Linked DNA regions of Homo sapiens: region 1 is linked to region 2. A link means that fine-mapping ties the variant in region 2 to the expression of a gene that starts in the linked region. Tissue or cell type: Th1 cells. Region 2 holds a variant in brackets; the other region holds the start of a gene. All regions are shown on one strand. Distances are from middle to middle.

Evidence for each region. PIP is the estimated chance that this variant, and not a neighbour inherited with it, causes the effect.
Region 1: it holds the start of CDC7, and the variant in region 2 is fine-mapped to the expression of CDC7 in Th1 cells (Schmiedel 2018, PIP 0.95).

Annotation. Positions count from the first base shown.
Region 1 is chr1:91,499,233-91,501,917 of GRCh38, reverse strand. CDC7 (cell division cycle 7) reads right to left here and starts at 1,067. Exons shown (of 12, transcript NM_003503.4): 1 at 970-1,067; 2 at 87-264. The coding sequence starts at 201. LOC105378856 (a long non-coding RNA gene) reads left to right here and starts at 1,070. Exons shown (of 3, transcript XR_947599.4): 1 at 1,070-2,685. RefSeq lists an enhancer at 226-425.
Region 2 is chr1:90,908,586-90,911,270 of GRCh38, reverse strand. No RefSeq gene overlaps it. Among named protein-coding and RNA genes, the nearest start is that of LINC01763, 58 kb to the right of the region's middle. The variant G/TG (reference allele first, on the strand shown) is at 1,254.

The DNA of each region.
Region 1 (2,685 bases), 590 kb before region 2:
ATCTTATTTTTTGAGAGGAATTGAAAACACAGAATTGTTGCCTGAAAAATCTTTATAACTGTACATCTTTGGATTTAAACACGTACCTGCAAGTTTAAAATTCTGCTCGTTTTTTTTTAAAGAGCCTTCAGCCTGAAACCGGTCACGCTGGGGAGAAAAAGCCATTGGCTCATCCATCTGAATCCCCAAAGACGCCTCCATCACAAGCCAATTGAGATGCAAAATGCCAGCTAAGGGGTTACATCCACAGGGGGAGCAAAGCAGCTGTGAAAATTAGAACACTAGAGAAATTTAGATCACTCGCTAAACCACGCACTAAAAACATGCTACTGCCCCCCAAAGGGGCAAACATTTTCAAACGCACGATGTGTCCAAACCTCCACAGTAGGGCATACTGTGGCCTTGTCTAAGGAATTCCATGTGCTTTATTTTCACCTATCAGAAACACCGGCAGGGGGCTGCAGGGAGAATTTCCCGGCTTGGGCACCCGCGCAGCAGCAGGCGCAGTGGGAAACGGCGAGGCTGCCAGTCCGGCACAGCCAGCGGGACCGCGTGGGGGAGGGGCCGAGCGCCGGGGGCGGTTTGAAGTCAGGAAAAGAACTGAGGGAGAAAACCTTTTCGCCACTGACAGGAAGCGCCAGGAGGCTCGTCCAAGGCCCCAAGCAAGTTGACGGAGAACTGATACGACCCTGGCCACGAGTACTGGGCGGAGGAGGAGAAGGGTGAATGAATGGGAATCCGCCGGCCAGCGCTGGCCGCGAGCTCAGCCGGGAAGGACCGGCTTCCCTCGGGCCAGAGACCGAACCAGATGCTTAGTGCGCAGGCGCGCGACTTTCCCGCCGCAGGTCGGAGGGATCCGAAGGGGGGCGGGAAAAGGAACTGCACGGCGAGAAAACCGAAGTCACGATCCAGAATTCGTTCCTAATCCCTCACAATCCCGCGCCATGGAACAAACCGTCGGAAACTCACGGTTTAAGGGAGTACGACTTCTGTGGCTCCCCAGATGCCTGGGTCGCCGTCTCCAAGAGATCCCCACCTACCGAGTCGATCGGATGCGCCTGCGCAACACTTCCCGCCGCCGCTCTGGTTGCACATGCGCACACTAAAGCCCTCGACCCCGCGGATTCCGCTACTGGGCGTTTGCGCAAGAGGGTGGGGTTTCTTCCCGCCGCCTTGGCCAGCTAGAAGAGCGGTTACGGGAATGAAGCCCGTGGATGATCTTAAAAAACAGGGTGAACCATAAGGCTAAGGGCCCAGCATGATTTCCAGGAAAGAAGCTAGCTCAGAGAAGGAAAAATCTCAGGTGCTGACACATCCCTATATACGTGGCCGGCCGCACAACACATTGGGCACTCCATGGATAAAAGGCACTTTCTTGACTCTGCTTTTATTTCCTTTTCGTTGAGTGCCCTACTTCCCCGTTAAAAACAAGCAGAAAATGTAATTGCTGATTGTTTGTGGCTGTGTTAGTAGAAATTAGCACAGTGGCAGGAAGGCAGTGTATACTATTTACTGAGCCCTTGGCTATGAGGTAGGTGGGTTTTTCTAGGGGCTGGAATCATAGTGAGCAAGATAAACACCATCCCTGTAGGAAGCTAAATTCCAATGAAGCGATGACAATAACGGATGAATAAATGAACAGTATTCTTTCCGGCATTGATTACTACTTGAGGGAAATACTGACCAGGAAGGTGGCATCTAGATGGTCAGGGAAGCCCTCTCAAAGAGACCTGGATGAGAAAGAGCTGGTAGGGAGACTGTTGTCCTGGCAAAGAAAGGATAGGGCAAATGCAGAGAGAAAGAGGAACTTGGTATGTTGCAGGGGCAGGGCAGGAAAGGCCAGTGTGGGGGAAGCATAGTGAGTGAGCCGCAAGATAGTCCCAGATAGATGAAGGTGGAGAGTTAGGCAGAAGCCAGACCAGGGTCCTTGAAAGCCAGGGTAAGAAGTTTAGTGTTTGTTCTGAGTACAATTGGAAGCTATTTGAAAGTTTTAAAGCAAGGGAGTAATATGATCTATCTGTTATGAAGAGAATGGATTGTAGAGGGGCAAGTGTGGAAGCAGAGGAAATAGGATGCACTTTATGTTTAGGAGAAACATAATGGTAGTTTGGACCAGAACAATGGCGGAAGAAATAAAAGAAAGAAGACAATGGGATTTGGTGATTGGCTATGGAAAATGAAGAAAAGGGCATCATCAACAGTGAATCTTAGGTTTTGGGCTAGCATATGTGTGGGTGGTAGTGCCACATAGAAGGGAAGTCTGTGAGGTAATGGTTTTTGATTGAGTGAGGTGGAAGAGAGTAAATCAAGGATTCTAGTGTGGATACCGAGAAAGAGAAAAGCAGACCTTGACATCCAGGAGATGGCCTGGTACTACCAGCTTGGTTTGCTGTTGCTTTGAGCTGGCCTGGCAATCACAGCCAAGCATTGGTATTCTTCTGTTGAACATAAACAATTTCACAGAACATCAGACAAGACAGAGTTGTGACCGTGATAGATCAAGACAAAAGTAAGATCACTCTATAATCATATGTGAACACAGACACAACATCAACATTGCCCAAGCCATAAAAATGATCAAATATCTCCTTATCCTAGCTAATATGAGTGCCTGCTGCTTCTTTACCAATTATAGTTTTAACCTCAGTCTAGTCTTCCTTCCTTCTACATAATACTTATTAAAAT
Region 2 (2,685 bases):
TTCAAGAGATCTTTGACTATTGTATTATGTGGTGTGTCTATACATTTTTCTGGGAGCTCCATAGCACTTAATTGCTCTGTGACCCCCACCTACCCCCAAAAAAGTAAACAGTAACTTCTTTGAAAGTAGCATATGTCACCATATCAACTGTCAAGTGTTTTGTGTTTTTGAGTATAATCCTAGACAAATTTTAATTAAAATTAACCCTCAAAATCTTCCGGCATATAAATTGGTGTTTGGGAATTAAAAAAAAACTTCTGGCATAGGTTTTTTCGTTTGCTTTTATATAATGTGAAAAATAGCATTAAATGTGAATTGTTTTGTGTCTTCTGAACAAGTTGGTAGACAAATATTATTTAGAAGTTTGCTCTAAAAAGATGATTTCTTAAGGATATAAATCCAGAGATTTAGTTCTTTCTTAAGTTTCTAAGGTCAAACTCGTGGTTTTTTGTTTGTTTTTTTCTATTGATGAGTTTAGCAAATTTCAGCAAATACTTTGAAGTAAGGAGCTTTTAGATAATGTGTAGTCACATTTACAACCTTAGTAGAATTTTAAAAACATTTAAAAGTGCATTTCTAAATTCAGTATATTCAGTTTCTATTTCAAGAACCTCTGTTCCCTGATTTAAAACCTTTTCAAGTACATAAGTATCTTTTATAAATAGAACAAATTAGTCTTAATATGTAGAACCTTGAATTATCTTGGCTATTTCAATGCCTCAGATAACTTAATAAGATTTCTACTTTAAAATGATTAGTACAAGTCCATGTTGATTACTCATTTACACATTTTTAGATTGGATTTAGGAGGCTGAACTGTTAGGCTAATAGACCAGATAATTCTTAAATATTATAAATACTCAAAATGTTTAAAGTATGAACAAATTGCCACTTACCAAATTGGCTTTATTGTGAGATAAAGTACGTAAATATGTTACTCTGATATTTAAAGAAATAACCTTAATTACCCTAAAGACAAGATGTAGAACATTGCCAGCATCCCCAATTAAATTCTCTTTCTTCTGTTTACCATTATTCTGACTTTTCTAATAATCATTTGTTTACCATTCTTAATAGTTTGACCTCTTAGAAAGCATGCAGTCTGCTTTGTCCTCATAGAAATGGAATTACACTGCGTGTCCTCTTTTGTGACCTGTTGCTTTTGCTTAATACCGTCTTTGAAGTTCATCTCTGTTTTTGTTAGTAACTATAGTTTATTCATTTTCATTGTTGTATTTTTTTTTTTTTTTTTT[G/TG]AGGCGGAGTCTTCTCTGTTGCCCAGGCTTGAGTGCAGTGGCGCAATCTTGGCTTACTGCAACCCTCGCCTCCCGGGTTCAAGCAATTCTCCTGCCTCAGCCTCCTGAGTAGCTGGGATTACAAGCGCCCACCACCATGCCCGGCTAATTTTTTTGTATTTTCAGTAGAGATGGGGTTTCACCATGTTGGCCAGGCTGGTCTCGAACTCCTGACCTCAAATGATCCACCCGCCTCAGCCTCCCAAAGTGCTGGCATTACAGGAGTGAGCCACCACACCCGGCTTCACTGTTGTATATTATTATTATAGATATGACACATTTAATTATCCATTTTTGTTCTTGATAGACATTTGAGTTGTTTTCAGCTTATGGCTTTTAAAAGCTGTGGAGCTATGAACACTTTTATTATGTCTCATGATGAACATCTGTGGGTTTCTCTTAAGGTACATGCCAAGGAGTGGGATTTTTTAGTCATAGACTATATAGTTTATGCTTCTTAGATAAAGCCAAACTTTTCTAAAAAATGATTGTGCATGTTTTTACTCCCAGAAGGACTGTGTCAGAGTTCTTATTCCTCTGTATTCTCACTAACACAGTCAGACTTTTAAATTTTTACTCATTGGTGCATATAAATGATATTTCATTGTGAACTTAATTTACATTTCCCTGATTACTATAAGGCTGATTATTCTTTCTTAGGTTTATTGGCCACCTATGTTTCTCTTTTGAAAAATGTTTTTACTGATCGCCCATTTTTTTCTATTGGGGTGTCTGTCTTTTTCCATATTGACTCTTAGCAATTCCATTAATCCTTAGGTTGTATGTGTTGCAGATATCCTCTACTTTGTGACTGTACTTTTCACTTGCTTTATGGTGACTTCCAATAAATCCTTTTAAATTTTTTAGTCATTTTATGGCACATGTTCTTGGCTTTTGTATGTCTGGTGATGCCTTTATTTGGTTAATTTTTTTTTTCACTGTTTAGGGTTTATTTGATGTTTTAGTTAGTATGGATATTCACTTAATTCTAGAATGATATTTTTACTGGGTATGGAATTCTATATTGATAGTTATTTTTTCCTCACAGATTGAGGCTATTCCATCATTTTCTGCCTTGTTCTTGGAAGTTCAGTTGTTGCTCATCTTAAAATAATCTGTTCTCTATTTTCTGGCTGATTTTTAGACATTTATATTAATCTCGAGTTTTTAAAGTTTTCCTCTAATATGTCTGTGGGAATTTTTTTGTTGTTGTCAAGTTTGAGATCTCTGCTGGGATTCTGGAAATTTCCTGGCTGTTATTTATCTCTCAACTGTTTTTTCTGCCCCATTTTCTCTCTCTGGTTCTTTTGGGACTCTAAATATAAGTTAAATCCTTCTCACTGTGCTTTCTAGATTTTTTGTCTTCTCTGTTTTCTTTCTCTTTGTCTCTCTG